Linked DNA regions of Homo sapiens. The protein of the gene in region 1 interacts with the protein of each later gene in a biochemical or structural test. Each region holds a gene or a part of one and is shown in the gene's direction. Other genes may lie near its edges.

Evidence for each region. Proteins that work in one complex are often made in the same cells at the same time.
Region 2: the proteins of SEMA4D (region 1) and PLXNB3 form a complex in vitro, tested with the Homo sapiens proteins (one large-scale study listed by IntAct).
Region 3: the proteins of SEMA4D (region 1) and PLXNB2 form a complex in vitro, tested with the Homo sapiens proteins (one large-scale study listed by IntAct).
Region 4: the proteins of SEMA4D (region 1) and CD72 form a complex in vitro, tested with the Homo sapiens proteins (2 studies listed by BioGRID and IntAct).

Annotation. Positions count from the first base shown.
Region 1 is NC_000009.12:89,378,857-89,383,492, reverse strand, and holds part of SEMA4D (semaphorin-4D isoform 1 precursor), read left to right. Parts: exon of another isoform or gene 1-2,065; intron 2,066-2,146; coding exon 2,147-2,319; intron 2,320-2,394; coding exon 2,395-2,438; intron 2,439-3,863; coding exon 3,864-4,636. UniProt on the Homo sapiens protein: Cell surface receptor for PLXNB1 and PLXNB2 that plays an important role in cell-cell signaling. Regulates GABAergic synapse development. Promotes the development of inhibitory synapses in a PLXNB1-dependent manner.
Region 2 is NC_000023.11:153,762,800-153,767,048, forward strand, and holds the start of PLXNB3 (plexin-B3 isoform 1 precursor), read left to right. Parts: upstream 1-1,449; 5' UTR 1,450-1,505; intron 1,506-2,671; 5' UTR 2,672-2,736; coding exon 2,737-2,781; intron 2,782-3,359; exon of another isoform or gene 3,360-3,411; coding exon of another isoform or gene 3,412-3,525; intron 3,526-3,583; exon of another isoform or gene 3,584-3,672; intron 3,673-4,073; coding exon 4,074-4,249. UniProt on the Homo sapiens protein: Receptor for SEMA5A that plays a role in axon guidance, invasive growth and cell migration. Stimulates neurite outgrowth and mediates Ca(2+)/Mg(2+)-dependent cell aggregation.
Region 3 is NC_000022.11:50,276,647-50,280,187, reverse strand, and holds part of PLXNB2 (plexin-B2 isoform 3 precursor), read left to right. Parts: intron 1-116; coding exon 117-183; intron 184-411; coding exon 412-558; intron 559-1,176; coding exon 1,177-1,333; intron 1,334-1,491; coding exon 1,492-1,592; intron 1,593-1,668; coding exon 1,669-1,753; intron 1,754-1,916; coding exon 1,917-2,071; intron 2,072-2,174; coding exon 2,175-2,335; intron 2,336-2,449; coding exon 2,450-2,597; intron 2,598-3,281; coding exon 3,282-3,346; intron 3,347-3,483; coding exon 3,484-3,541.
Region 4 is NC_000009.12:35,609,482-35,612,488, reverse strand, and holds the end of CD72 (B-cell differentiation antigen CD72), read left to right. Parts: intron 1-569; coding exon 570-685; intron 686-1,735; coding exon 1,736-1,865; 3' UTR 1,866-1,887; intron 1,888-2,188; coding exon of another isoform or gene 2,189-2,339; 3' UTR 2,340-2,507; downstream 2,508-3,007. Other genes in the region: TESK1 (dual specificity testis-specific protein kinase 1), read right to left, coding at 2,747-3,007. UniProt on the Homo sapiens protein: Co-receptor of B cell receptor (BCR) that plays both positive and negative roles on B-cell functions. Recognizes the Sm/ribonucleoprotein (RNP) self-antigen ligand, and coligation of CD72 and BCR inhibits BCR signaling.

The DNA of each region.
Region 1 (4,636 bases):
CCTGGAGAGGAGTAGTCTGGTGTTTTGTGGTGTGTCTGGTGTATTCTTGTGATTATCTTGGGGTCGTGGTTTTAGGGGGAGCACCAAAGAGGGCGCTTTCTGGGGATGGGGCATCTGTATGACTCGCACCAGCGTGATGACCTTGGTCATTCTGTCCAAGTCACCACCGTCTTTTTCCATGTCGAGTGTGTCGGGGCATGTAGTCCACACTGGGGGTGGGGGAGAGTGAGCCCCACCTCCCAGGGGAGTCATGTGGGAAACCCCCACAGTCATTCATGCTTATTTGCAGGGACAGACTTGGAGGCTACAGAAATGCCCTGTTCTCCCACCCACTGACATCCACATCGACCAGTGGGTCCTGCCTGCAGCAGTTACAGCTGGCTGTCCTGACGACCAGTTCCTCCTTCCCTGTCCCCTCTTCCCTTCCACAGTCATCCCTTGGTCTCTGTGTGGCGTCGTTTAGTTTTTACAGCTTAGTTTCATTTGGGCTGCAGCCCAGCCCCATCCGGGAGAAGCGGAAGCTGGGGCTGAGTCTCCCGCAGGGTGCAGGAGGTGGTCTGGATCCCCTTGGGACAGGCCTTGCCCCCCAGAGCCCACCCCACCCTCCACAGCTACCCTCAAGCCTCTCTTTGGGGTGAGGAGTCAGGCGGGCCCCACTTGGCCACCCAGGGCACCCTGCTCTGCACTGCATGGTGTTCACGCCACCTCGCAGGTGCCCCCCGCGGGACCCAACAGGACCAGCTGTCCCTTGGAAGTTACCCAGCTTGGCTTTGCTGCCAGAGAATGTTTCCGCCACCTCCACAAGCCGCGCGATGCCCGAACTGTGATCTGGGATGTCATCCTCAATCCTTCCCACAAACGTGGCTCACACATGGCCTCATCTGCCCAGGTCTCTGCTGCTGCTGCTGCTGTGAGGCCAGCGGCGGGCCAGGTTCCCTCTGCTGTGTATTATCACAGTTTCCATCCTTGGGGGCTTTCCCTTTCTCTCGTGGGTCTGTGTCCGCACAGCTGGATGTGTGGCCTGGGGCTTCCTGTATTGGCATCAGGGCCTGTGATCTTCCAACCACACTCTGAAGTTGACTCCGAGCGTATCCTCTGAGGATGAAGGTCGTGTTTCATCTGACTGTAAACCACTAAGTCATGTGTAAATTTGGGAATCTTGTATTGTTAACCAAAAGGTGTCCCCAGGCTGTTGAGGCAGATGCCCTGGGCAGAGGCTAGAGAGCGCGCTCCACGGGCCACCTCCAGGTCTGTTGCACGCCCCCGAGCTTCAGGTGGGTGCACTGCATGTGGGGCACCCTCCTTCCAGCTGAGTTCCGTTCAAAAGCAGTCAGCAGCCCTGGATGCCTGTGTGCTGGGCACTGCTGGTGCCAGGTGGGCTGATGGGATGGACCTGAAGCTGGTGTCACTGGGAACCAAGTGTCCCAGAAGGTGGGAGAGTCTCACCTGCCCTCTGCTGTGGGTGTGGCTGCTCTGGAGCTCGGAGGTTGACTTCCCGTCTGTGAGCTCTTCCCTTTTACATATAGATAAGTGAAAAGCAAAAGGCATTGTTCCTTTTTTATGTTTTGTATCACGATCTCCTCATCCTTTGCATGTCGTCCGTTTGGCATCCCTGTTATGTTAGGCCTCTGCTGGATCCAGACCCTCACGAGAGGCTCCCCGCCCACAGGTGCTCACATTCTGGCTCGGGGGACGAGGTTGGGCTTCGAGGTGGTGTGCTTCAGCCTCTGGCTGCAGCCCCTTCTCACCTATAGTGAGGCCGGGAAGATGACCGGGAGTGCCAGGCTCATGCATCCTCTGCTGCAGGGAGGAGATCTGGAGGTGGGGACTGAACAGCCTCCCCACTGGCTAAGAGAAACACGTGCAGAGAAGCGCTTTGCTGGAGGGCAGGCACCTGTGGGTGCCCAGACAGGGGAGAGAGGGATTTGGACCTAAGGCCCAGTGAGCCCTGACATAGCACGTGGATTCTGCAGGAAGGTCACAGACCTGCCTTGTTTGCCTCTGGTTCTGAGTACCTCTCCTCCTTACTGCAATGTCCCCTGAAGGTACACTCTGGCTGCTTCCCACACACTGGTGCAGAAGCAGAGGCCATGCTCCTGGATGCCTGCTTGCCTGATGCTAGTTCTTCTCTGTCTCATACACGCAGGGCAACAGGTTTGTCTATGCTGGCTCTAACTCGGGCGTGGTCCAGGCCCCGCTGGCCTTCTGTGGGAAGCACGGCACCTGCGAGGACTGTGTGCTGGCGCGGGACCCCTACTGCGCCTGGAGCCCGCCCACAGCGACCTGCGTGGCTCTGCACCAGACCGAGAGCCCCAGCAGGTATGGGGCGGGATGCGCTGCCTGGGGATGTCCCCCATGTGTGTGGGTGAATAACACGTGCCGGTTGTTTTGCAGGGGTTTGATTCAGGAGATGAGCGGCGATGCTTCTGTGTGCCCGGGTGAGTGACTCCTCGACGTCCCATTTCCTTTGGGAGTGGCGAGGTCTTGTAGCCATTTCACGGTGCTTCAGTTCTGTGGCATTTGTGTGTGTTTTGTTTTTCTTTCTCCACTCGGAACAGAGGTCAAGTGTTCTGTAGCAGACTCGTGGTCTTCTCTGTCTTTTTTTCTTGCCGAAAGAGTACTTGAAGCCACTTAGAGTGTATCTGCTTACTGGGAAGCAGTCTCCTTCCAAAACCATCCTGTTTTCTTTCTGCTTAGCTTGGGGCTCATTAAGCAAAACCTAAGCCTGTTATAAATGGGGAGAAAGGAGCCCATGAGTGATTAATCCTCAGGCAGTGTAAGGGCTGGGGTGGTGTTTCCCCTGGGGCTCCCACCTGGGATTCACCCGCCTGTGGATGTCTGAAATAGCACCACACCCAGAGGGAGGGGTGGCATCAGGCCAGATGCCCCTTCCCCAGCAGCCACCTTCCAGGGTGCTAAAGGCAGACTTGACCCTCAGTTCTGTGTCTTCCTGACCCTGACAAGACAGCTGTCATCAGACTAAGAAAGGTTTAGGCAGCTGGGCATGGTGGTACACGCCTGTAGTCCCAGCTACTAGGGAGGCTGAGGCAGGAGGATTGCTTGTGCCCAGGGGTTCAAGGCTCAGTGAGCTTATCATGCCACTGCACTCCAGCCTGGGGTGACAAAGTGAGACCCAGACTCTAAAAAGAAAACAAAAGCTGGCCGGGCACAGTGGCTCATGCCTGTAATCCCAGCATTTTGGGAGTCTGAGGCAAGAGGATCACTTGAGCTCAGGAGTTCGAGACTACCCTGGGCAACGTGGTGAGACCCTGTCTCTACAAAAAATACAAAAATTAGCCAGGCCTGGAGGTGGTCACCTGTAGTCCCAGCTACTCTGGAGACTGAGGTGGGAAGATCCCTTGAGCTGGGGGGGTTGAAGCTGCAGTGAGCTGTGATTGCACCACTGCACTCCAGCCTGGGCAACAGAGCCAGACCCTGTTTCAAAAAAAAGAAAAAAAAGAAAAGTTTAGGCAGGAGGAGAGTGCTGAGATGCACTGAAAGGCCAGTCTTCCTTGCAGCCATTAGCAGAAGCGTCTCGTGTCTGATTCAAAGAGCTGACACTAGGCACAGAACTGGCCTCTGCTCAGCTTCCCCAGCCTGACGCGTTTTCTTCTGGGACACGGGTGAGAAATGGGATTTCTGCTGCTCAGAGCTGCCTCCAATTTCTTTGTCCCCATGGGCTGTCATCCAGGGCTCATCTTTGCTTTTTGGTCACGCATGTCTTTATCTCCTTAGTTGTTCTGGAAGATTCCATGTTGCTACAGTGGGTGAAACTCTTGCGTCATCTTGTGGGTATTTTAAAGAAGTTGTTAAATAGCAAATGGGGATTGTTGACGCTGTGCACGTTTATTTTGATGTTCCAGATAAAAGTAAAGGAAGTTACCGGCAGCATTTTTTCAAGCACGGTGGCACAGCGGAACTGAAATGCTCCCAAAAATCCAACCTGGCCCGGGTCTTTTGGAAGTTCCAGAATGGCGTGTTGAAGGCCGAGAGCCCCAAGTACGGTCTTATGGGCAGAAAAAACTTGCTCATCTTCAACTTGTCAGAAGGAGACAGTGGGGTGTACCAGTGCCTGTCAGAGGAGAGGGTTAAGAACAAAACGGTCTTCCAAGTGGTCGCCAAGCACGTCCTGGAAGTGAAGGTGGTTCCAAAGCCCGTAGTGGCCCCCACCTTGTCAGTTGTTCAGACAGAAGGTAGTAGGATTGCCACCAAAGTGTTGGTGGCATCCACCCAAGGGTCTTCTCCCCCAACCCCAGCCGTGCAGGCCACCTCCTCCGGGGCCATCACCCTTCCTCCCAAGCCTGCGCCCACCGGCACATCCTGCGAACCAAAGATCGTCATCAACACGGTCCCCCAGCTCCACTCGGAGAAAACCATGTATCTTAAGTCCAGCGACAACCGCCTCCTCATGTCCCTCTTCCTCTTCTTCTTTGTTCTCTTCCTCTGCCTCTTTTTCTACAACTGCTATAAGGGATACCTGCCCAGACAGTGCTTGAAATTCCGCTCGGCCCTACTAATTGGGAAGAAGAAGCCCAAGTCAGATTTCTGTGACCGTGAGCAGAGCCTGAAGGAGACGTTAGTAGAGCCAGGGAGCTTCTCCCAGCAGAATGGGGAGCACCCCAAGCCAGCCCTGGAC
Region 2 (4,249 bases), on another chromosome or scaffold:
GCATGGGGGGAAGGACAGGGAGAGGGAGAGAGGCCAGCTGGCTCCCCCAAGCCTCCCCTCCTGGAGCTTCTAAATCCCTCCCTGGCTCCTTCAAGGCTGCCTGGCCTTCCTGTTGGGGAGAGACCCCTCGCCGGCTGCTCACTCGCTTTTTGGTGGTCCTTCCCACGGGCCTGCCTGGTCTGCCTCCACATCCTCAGCGGCTGCAGGTGAGAAGCTGTGGATCTGGGGCCCAGTGGTCCAGAGCGTGGCCCGTGCCAGAATGCCCAGGTTCAAATCCCATCTCTGTGGAATGCACTCTGAAGAAACGACGTCAGGTCATGGCCCTGGGCAAGTTACCCACCTCTGTGCCCCATTTCTCTCCATGCAGGTTGGAAAGAATGACACAGCTGCTCAGGGAAGCACCCATACCCCGAGTCTGCTGGGCCTTTGAGCTCCAGGGCCAACACCTGGCCCTATACCCTGGCCGCCCCCAGGGCTCCAGCCACCTGAGCCAAGCTTCTCACCCCCAGGCCTCCCCAGCCCCATCACCATTTCCTCCTCCCTCATGGGCCCCTCAGTCTTACCGTCCTCCCACTTCCGCCAGCCCCTCTGTGGATGGCCCTGCCACAGGGGGAACAGTGCCCCAGCAGAAAAGCCCCAGGGTCGCCTGGATTCTCCTGCCTTCGCCTCCTGCCCTGGGTCCAACGCACAGTCTTCAGAATGCTGCCTCCCCAGAGCGCCTCTAGAACGCGCCCGCCTCTCTCCATGCCCATGACCACCACTGGACCAGGCCTCCCCACATTCTCTGCCCCAGTGCCACCAGCTTGCAGTTGCCCATGGCGAGACAAGTTCAAGTTCTCAAGCCTGGCCACAAAGACCCCACCTGATTTGCTGACCTCCGCCACACCCTGGGAGACGGCCCTTGACCAACCTTGTGTTCCAGTCGGTGGGAAACACTGGTTTTTCCTCAACGCCACGTGGGCATGTCACGTCCAGGCCTGGCCTGGGGTAGGCCTCAGCTCCATCTCCTGCCCAACGCCTGCCAAGGTTCATGGTTCAAGGTCATGTAGCCTGACGGTTAAGTGAAGGGGCCCTGTGATTGACTCAGCCTTGCCACATACTAGCTGTGTGACTTTATTCAAGTTTCCTAACCTCCTGTGCCTCAGTTTCCCAACCTGTGTTTGTTTCTGGATGGTGCCAGTGCCAAGCCCAAGCCTGGCATCCAGTAGGTGCTTCGTGCCAGGTTATGGAATGCCCACCCAATAGGAGGGCGCTGCCGTCTCTCACCTGCCAGGTGCCCACGGTCAGTACTCCATCATGCCCGCTGCGGCCAGCAGAGGGCAGCAACATCCTGCCCTGTGCCATTGGGCAAAGGGGCGGGCGGAGAGAGGCTGGGCTGCCTGGCCGGGCTTGTTGGGATGAGTCGGACTGGGCACGATTGCATTGTGGGGAGGGAGGCTGGGGCTCTGTGAGACGTGCTCCTGGCACCGCCAGCTGCTACTTGGCCCTCGCCGGTGGCCCACCAGGTAGGCAAGAGCTGGGGCAGGCTTGGGCTTGGGCTTGGGGTGCAGGGGCTACCAGCCTCAGGGCAAGGCATCAGGGTCTCAGGGCCAACTGGCTGGGGTCAGGCAAGAGCGCTCGGGTGTCGGCCCAGCCTGACGACGGCACTAGGTGTCTGGGAGCACGGTGTCCCCCAAGTGGTAGCCCTGGGGTTAGGAGGTGGGGAACCATGTTTCTTCCCCGAAATGGGAAAGCCAACGCCAGCCTCGGGCAGGGTACAGGGTAGAGAGGCTGCCCGCCTGGCTCCCCACCCCCACAGCCACCCAACTGGCCCAGCCAGGTGACAGCAGCCCACTGCCACCTTGCCCTGGAGCCTACTGCTGCCGTGCTGTGGGGGAGGCAGAGACCCCATCCCCAGTGCACCTGCTCCTGTGCCACTGGCCAGGGTGGCCTGTGAGGGTGACAGGGGGTCTAGCTGCTAGGTGCCCCTCCCTTCCCCATCCCCTGCATGGATGGCATCTAGGCCAGCAGGACGGTGCTTCAGAGGGTGGGGTGGACAGCCCCGGCCTGTGGACCCTCTGCCTCAGCCCATCTCAAGCAGCCTCCTCCCGTGGTCCTGCTCGCTGCCACCATGCTGTACCTGGCACCACTTCACCAGTCCCCAGGGGCAGGGCTGGGCTGGGGGTGTGGAGGAAGATCTTTTGGACAAAGGCAGGCATTGAGGGCCAGGACTGGCACTTCACCCAGGCCCCAAGGCTACCAGCCGGCATTTGCAGGGGCTCCAAGGTCCACCCCGTGCCCTTCACAGGGACCCGGGGAGCCAGGGAGGGGCATGCTTAGTGACACAGGGGTTGCAGGGCCAGAGGGGGAGGGCTGGCTGGAGGAAACCCCGGCCCTTTGTCCCCGGATCCCGGGGGTGGCTCCCTGAGGGTGGGAAGTGGCAAGGAGCCCCCTGTCCAGAACAGCCCAGTGGGGGTGACAGCACTAGCGAGTGGGGCCCTGGCCTGGCCTCTGGACAGAGGGAACATTGTTGTGGTGGAGGCAGGGCTGCCTTGGCCTGGCCACTATTGACAAAGCTGCCAGCTGTGAGGGAGCCCGGTCGCTAGGCCCTGGGCGCCACCCCCACCGCCGCCCCTCCTTCCCCAGGCCAGCTCGAATGGGGCTGAGCCTCGACTGTCTCCCTCCCACTCAGGACAATGCCCCCCCGCAGCCATCTCATGCCCATCGCCACTGCCCTGGGGCAGCTGAACTGAGCGTATGTGCCACGCCGCCCAGGAGACCCCTCTGCTGCACCACTTCATGGTAAGTGCCCAGGCCCGGTGTCCCCAGAAATGTTCCTGGGAGGGGCAGGGTAGGGCAGGATGGCTGTGGCCAGGCCCAGGACATACAGGCTGCAGCCTCCCTCATGGCAGACACTGCCCCAGATAGCCCGGGGTCCGCAGGAAGTGTCCGTGCTCTTCCTGCCTGTGTTCCTGAGATAAGCGGCTCCTGGGCCTTCCTCCAGGCGCTGCTCTGCCCTGAGTCGCAGCGGCCCCACTCCTGGTCGGCATGTGACCACACACCCAGGGCAGCATCTCTCTGTGGAGGGCAGGAGGGGCCAGAGAAGGGGCTGCTCCCACCTCTCACCCTCGGGGGCTCACCCCGGGGTCCCACCAGGCACACCCAGGAACCATCTCCAGTCTGGCACCCCTCCCTGCCCCTTCCCTGACCCCTCCCCCAGCCAGCTCTCCTGGTCTGCTCTTCTCCTGGGACACTCCTACACTGAGGCCCCCTGTGCCAGGCCCTGAGAGACCCAAACTGCTGGGGCCCATGGGGCAGGAGCAGGCCTCCCCGCACCCCTGAAGCCTGTGTTGTCTCTTGACACCCCTGGCTTCTCCCAGCACCCCCGCTGCCTTGCCCCAGTGCTTCCTCGCCCTGGAGCTGGGCGCCAGCATGGAGCTCACCCCTGCCTCTTCGCTGACTTGCTCCTTGCTCAGCCCGCGGCTGCCTGGCTCTTTCCCCCAGCTGCGGAGGGTTCCTCCTTGCAGCCGGCCCTGGCTGCCCAAGGCAGGTTTTCTCTCCCTGTCTGGTCCCTTGGGGCACACGGTGGCCTCACTCCTCTCACCTGACTTAGATCTCTCTTGTCTGGGTGGTGGGCGCAGGGGCGCGCTGTGACACAGCTTCCGCCAGCCTTCCAGCTCCCGCGGCCTCCCTCCCTCCCCTGCCCTCTCTCCATCCCTGCCCCCTCTGTGACTCACAGTCCCTCTGTTAGCGCTCTTGCGGCTTTCCAGGACCTGCCCCCCTTCAACAATCTACATGCATATAAAGTAGGAGATGAAAGAATTCTGTCCTTGTGTGCTTGTGCGTGCGTGCATGCACCCCTCCCTGCCTCTTGCTCCAGCTCTTGGACACTGTCTTTGTCCCTCCTTATGTCCCCCTCTCTCTGTGCCCCCTCTGTCTCCTTGTCTCCGCTCACTCTCTCTCATTCTCCATCTCTCTGCCTCCCTCCCTCCCTGGCCCTGAGCACCCTGGCCTCTGTCCACCCCACCTTCCACCTTCCTCTGGTCCTCTATCTGCCTTGCGCTCCCACTGCCCTGACCTGTGCCCTCTCACAGGCCCCCGTGATGGCTCGCTGGCCTCCCTTCGGCCTCTGCCTCCTCCTGCTGCTGCTGTCCCCACCGCCACTGCCCTTGACAGGGGCCCATCGCTTCTCCGCACCTAATACCACTCTCAACCACTTGGCACTGGCACCTGGCCGAGGCACACTCTATGTCGGCGCAGTGAACCGCCT
Region 3 (3,541 bases), on another chromosome or scaffold:
CACCCAGGCTGGACAGGGGCGAGGCTGGCGCAAGGGTGGCCGGGTGCTTGGAGGAGTCAGTTGGGCCTCAGGAATACTACGGGGTCACTCGGTACAAGGCCTCCCTGCACCCCCAGGTCTGAGACTGTGGTGGAGAGGATGCTGTCCAACTGGATGTCCATCTGCCTGTACCAGTACCTCAAGGTGGGTTCCACCCCAGCCTGGCTGGGGCTTGAGGGATGAGGCAGACTGCTGCCATCCCCTCCTGCGTTCCCCTATCTGTACGGCACCTTGAGGTGGGCCCTGCCTGGACAGGTTTGCTTCCTGCCCCTGACATGGTCAGCCCCGTCCATGCCTCTGGCCAGGGCTCCGGGGGCCCCTTCCAGGCCCCAAGTCCCCTGACCTCCCAGCCTCCCCTCCGTGTTACTCCAGGACAGTGCCGGGGAGCCCCTGTACAAGCTCTTCAAGGCCATCAAACATCAGGTGGAAAAGGGCCCGGTGGATGCGGTACAGAAGAAGGCCAAGTACACTCTCAACGACACGGGGCTGCTGGGGGATGATGTGGAGTACGCACCCCTGGTGAGCTTCTGGGGTGGGGGCCGCCATGGGCGCCTCGGATCTGGGCTAAGGAGCTTGGGCATCCCCTGGCCACAGATGGGACCCACAGGCCAGAGGCCGTCCACCTCCTCTGTGGATTCGAGTTACAGCCTGCTCTAACTCGGCCTCAGGGAGGGGCCTGGGTGCTGGTGGCTGTGGGCTCTGGAGGCTCTAAGTGTGCGGGCCCCGCATCAGCTCTTCCCGGGCGCCCCCACCTCCTGGAGGCCATACAAGGGCCTGGCACACCAGGTGTGTCCAGGGTTCTGTGCATACATGACCAGTGGGTGTGGCAGGAGCCTGTGCATGTGTGAGACGTGTGTATTCTGTGTCTGTACATGTGCTTCCATGAGCTTGCGTGACAGCCTGAGTGAGCGGTTCTGAGCCGTCCCCGTCTTTCTGTCCTGCTGAGCCGGAGCAGGCAGGGGAAGGGCAGAGTGTGGTCATCTGGGAAGCCTCGGGGGCTCGGAGCCGGGCTGGCGGGGGCCTGCTGCCCAAGGGTGCCGCTGTGGTGGGCAAAGCTGGCGGGGCAGGGAGTGGCTCCTGCATGGTGCAGGTAAGAGCAGGGCCTCCCACTGGGCTTCATCCCGGATGTCTCGGCAGACGGTGAGCGTGATCGTGCAGGACGAGGGAGTGGACGCCATCCCGGTGAAGGTCCTCAACTGTGACACCATCTCCCAGGTCAAGGAGAAGATCATTGACCAGGTGTACCGTGGGCAGCCCTGCTCCTGCTGGCCCAGGCCAGACAGCGTGGTCCTGGGTGAGTGCCGGCCCCTGCCCGTCTGCACACAGGCGCCCATGTGCCTGGCCTGTGTCCTGGGGCGGTATCCTGCCTGGCCAGCTTTCTCATATGGGAGTGGTGGGCAGTGGGAGGAACCTGGGTGGCTGGGGCCCAAGCTGGGCTGTCTCTTCCCACAGAGTGGCGTCCGGGCTCCACAGCGCAGATCCTGTCGGACCTGGACCTGACGTCACAGCGGGAGGGCCGGTGGAAGCGCGTCAACACCCTTATGCACTACAATGTGAGCGTGTAGGCCGGGGCGGGCGAGAACTGGGCACCCTGGGGGCACAGCCCACCCTCACCGCCGTGTTCCCCAGGTCCGGGATGGAGCCACCCTCATCCTGTCCAAGGTGGGGGTCTCCCAGCAGCCGGAGGACAGCCAGCAGGACCTGCCTGGGGAGCGTGAGTCCCTCCCTGTTGCCCGTTTCCTTCCAGCCCCTGGTGGTCAGCGTGGACCATGTCTGCCCTGGACACATGCACCCCTGCCCACCCTGCCACCACTGCTCCCTGTGGGACCCAGGCCCCCAGACCTGGGTAGGGGTCCCTCAGTGCCCGCTCCCCACAGGCCATGCCCTCCTGGAGGAGGAGAACCGGGTGTGGCACCTGGTGCGGCCGACCGACGAGGTGGACGAGGGCAAGTCCAAGAGAGGCAGCGTGAAAGAGAAGGAGCGGACGAAGGCCATCACCGAGATCTACCTGACGCGGCTGCTCTCAGTCAAGGTGGGCCCCCATGGGTGTGTGGGCGGCACCAGGCCGCCACGCTGAGACCCTCCCCCCCAGGAGCCGCGCCCACGGCGTCACGCTGAGACCCTCCCCCCCACAGGGCACACTGCAGCAGTTTGTGGACAACTTCTTCCAGAGCGTGCTGGCGCCTGGGCACGCGGTGCCACCTGCAGTCAAGTACTTCTTCGACTTCCTGGACGAGCAGGCAGAGAAGCACAACATCCAGGATGAAGACACCATCCACATCTGGAAGACGAACAGGTGAGGCTCCACACCCACCCCGCGGCCCAGCCCCGGCTCCGCCTCTCACTTGGGAGGCTCCACACCCACCCCGCGGCCCAGCCCCGGCTCTCATTCCCTGCTGCTCTGCCTCAGCTTACCGCTCCGGTTCTGGGTGAACATCCTCAAGAACCCCCACTTCATCTTTGACGTGCATGTCCACGAGGTGGTGGACGCCTCGCTGTCAGTCATCGCGCAGACCTTCATGGATGCCTGCACGCGCACGGAGCATAAGCTGAGCCGCGTGAGTGGGGTGGGGGCAGGTCTGGGGCAGGGAGGCCTGGGTCTGTCCCCAGGAGGCATCTTGTGAGTTGGGACCTTGTCTGGGGTGTGGATTTGAATATCTTGGGCTGGAGCCCTTGATGTAGGAGGTGACGGGTGGCGGAGGCTGGGGGCACAGGGGCCCGGCAGAGCCTGGGAGATCCCGAGAGCCCTTGCCCTCTCTCCTCCTGAGACCTCTCACCACAGCACACGAGCAGAGAAACTGAGTTTTACTACAGATCACAAAATAAGTAGTTTTCTTTTTTTTTTTTTGAGATGGAGTCTCTCTCTGTCGCCCAGGCTGGAGTGCAGTGGCGCGATCTCTGCTCACTGCAACCTCCGCCTTCTAGGTTCAAGCGATTTTCCCGCCGCTGCCTCCTGAGTAGCTGGGACTACAGGCATGTGCCACAACGCACGGCTAGTATTTTTAGTAGAGACGGGGTTTCACCATGTTGGGCAGGCTGGTCTCGAACCCCTGACCTCAGGTGATCTGCCTGCCTCAGCCTCCCAAAGTGCTAGGATTACAGGCCTGAGCCACTGCGCCCGGCCCATAGTTTTCTTGATGAAAGTGTCAGGAGTTCGGGGCAGGGGAAGCTACCCAGGGGTACTCTGAGCAGCCCCAGCCTGGCCCCCTTGGCCAGGCATCACTGGGTTTTGTCCCCAACAGGATTCTCCCAGCAACAAGCTGCTGTACGCCAAGGAGATCTCCACCTACAAGAAGATGGTGGAGGAGTAAGTCTGCCTGCCCTCCAGGCCAGGCCCCCATGCCCACCCTCGACCCCCTGCGGGGAGGTTCAGGCCTTGGTTTCCCCCACCACCCCCTTTGTGGTCCCTGCCGCCCACACTGTATGATGCTCCCACCCCTGCAGTTACTACAAGGGGATCCGGCAGATGGTGCAGGTCAGCGACCAGGACATGAACACACAC
Region 4 (3,007 bases), about 54 Mb from region 1:
CTCAGCCTCCTGAGTAGCTGGGACTACAGTCACATGCCACCACGCCCAGCTAATTTTTGTATTTTTAATAGAGTCGGGGTTTCACCATATTGGTCAGGCTGGTCTCTAACTCCTGGCCTCAGGTGATCCACCTGCTTCAGTCTCCCAAAGTGCTGGGATTATAGGTGTGAACCACTGCGCCCGGCCTCTACTTTAATGTGTATCTCATCTCAGCTTGCTGGTCAGCTCCCTGGGCTGCTTGACAGGTTCCTGGACTCTTGTGGCCTCTCAGGCAGAGAGGTCCCACACCTGGTGGGCTGGATTGTAGGGATTAGTTCCTTGGGGCCAGAACAGCACACAGAATGACTCCCCTCCAAAGGCTGGCAGAGATTCTTACTCAGCTGGAAGGCAAATTTAGCAGTGAGCCTGCATCTGCAGGGTGGCACTTGATGGATTCAGGGACAAGTTACCAAAGAGCTGTCATATATACAGCCCCCTTGCCAAAGCTGAGGCCTCCCTAGGGTGTGCATTTTCTTCCATATTTCTCATCACTCTCCATGTATCTCTGGTCTCTCTGAATCTCCCCTCAGCACTCTTACTACTTCTTAAATTCACTGTTGCCAAATGGTGGTTCAGGGAATTCATATTGGACTGGCCTCAGCTCTAACAAGGATTGGAAGTTGACTGATGATACACAACGCACTAGGTAAGTTTGTTAGGACTTCTGGGTATTTTCAACTCCATAATCCCCTCCATAAAGACATGGTAATCAGATTTCCTTCCCACCTGGTCCCCTCAGGACTCTCCCATAAATCAACACTGTAATTGCCTATTTGTCTGTTTCCTCTATTTGATTAATAACTTCTTAGGGCAATCTTATTCTCCATTCTATTTCCACCTAGAAGTCCCTGGCACATACTTTTTTGTTTCAGTAACTACTAGGTTGGGACCTACGCTATCTTTTAGGGGGAGACATTAAGGATTTAGTTAAGGCTCCACAGCTGATGACAGCAGCGTTTCTCCATCCTTCGAGAAGGCCACCCAAACTGAGGTTGTACTTTCTCAGTAGCGGCCACTTGGGGCACTAGAGCTGCCTCAGTGAAGTACGCAAGGGAGCAGCGGGGGTACCATCGAAGCTCCACTTCACTGTGATCAAGACAGCAGTGGGGTACCATTGAGGATCAACCCTAGGGACCCTGAAACAGGGTGGCAACCTCCTTATGTTCCTCAATTGGCCTTCCCATCTTTTTTTTTTTTTTGAGATGGAGTCTCGCTCTGTCGCCCAGACTGGAGTGCAGTGGTGCAATCTCAGCTCACTGCAAGCTCCGCCTCAGGGGTTCACACCATTCTCCTGCCTCAGCCTCCCCAGCAGCTGGGACTACAGGCGCACACCGCCATGCCCGGCTAATTTTTTGTATTTTTAGTAGAGACGGGGTTTCACCGTGTTAGTCAGGATGGTCTCGATGTCCTGACCTTGTGATCCACCCGCCTTGGCCTCCCAAAGTGCTGGGATTGCAGGCATGAGCCACCGTGCCCAGCCTGGCCTTCCCATCTTTAAGATCTCGAGTTATTTTTCCCTCTGCTGGTTCTAAAGTCTGTTTTAGTTGAACTCCAGACATCTGTCCTGAACCATGCCCAGATGTGGCCTTAGGCAGGCAGGGTGAGTTAGGATTTAGGTTTTATACAGGGGAAGGGGAGAGAAGGGAGGGTGGGATATGTCCAGAGCATATCCCAGCTCTACCTTACTACTTTTTAGGACTTATGCTCAAAGCTCAAAATGTAACAAGGTACATAAAACTTGGTCATGGTGGACACTGGAGTCAGAGTCATGTAGAAGTTCTCTTCCCTACATCTGTGAGATGACAGCTTTCAGGTTTCCAGATTAGGACAGTCCTTTGCACTGAGTTGGTAAGAGTGAGGGATGGGGCTGAGGCATGGGGAGTCCAGGGGCAGAGGGACTCAGAGCAGGGACTCAGAGCAGGGGCCCAGGGGCCCGAGAGAAAACTTGTACCTGGGATGAAAGTTCCTCCACAGCCTCCAGTTGCTTGGTCTGCTTGTTAGGGTGGGGTGGGCAGGGAGGGACAGGTAAGGCCTACAACTTATGGGAGGCTGGTGGTGTGGCTGTCGAGAGCTGAGGAGGAGATGGGGTGAGTGGGATGAGGGTTCAGTTAAGTCAACCATGGAGCTCACTGATACTTTACTTTTCCAGACACTCATGCCAACAAGAACCTGTGCCCCTCCTTCCTAACCTGAGGCCTGGGGTTCCTCAGACCATCTCCTTCATTCTGGGCAGTGCCCAGCCACCGGCTGACCCACACCTGACACTTCCAGCCAGTCTGCTGCCTGCTCCCTCTTCCTGAAACTGGACTGTTCCTGGGAAAAGGGTGAAGCCACCTCTAGAAGGGACTTTGGCCTCCCCCCAAGAACTTCCCATGGTAGAATGGGGTGGGGGAGGAGGGCGCACGGGCTGAGCGGATAGGGGCGGCCCGGAGCCAGCCAGGCAGTTTTATTGAAATCTTTTTAAATAATTGCACGTGTTAGTCTCATGTGTCAGCAATGCTGTGTCTGGTTCAGTGATCCCCACGGGAACGCGAGCCGGGGGGTCGACTGGAAGTGCTCTGTCCCTTGAGTCCATGCTGGGGCTCCCCTACACGGGGAGAAGAGCCGGTCAGCCCATCTGGAACTGGCACTGTCCAGCAAGTGTGCTCTGTTCTTACAGGGTGTCCTGAAGGCCAAAGTTGGAGGCCTGAGACCACGGGCTCCACTGCTAAGAGCGTGCCCCAGGCAGCTGCAGGCTGGGTGTGGGTGGCTTGGCGTGGTGCCCTCGGTGGCAGAGGAGACTGCCCGCCTCACAGTTCAGGTTGCGGTAGCGGGCAACAGCTGGTGTGGGGCGGGGGCACATGGACAGGAAGCCAAAGCTGAAGGGGCCGAGGCAGCAGCCAGGACAGGGCAGCCCCTCATCGGGCTCCCGGGGAGCTGAAGGGGGTGGCGAGGGTTCTGTCCGCTCCAGGGCTGCCGCCCGGGGCAG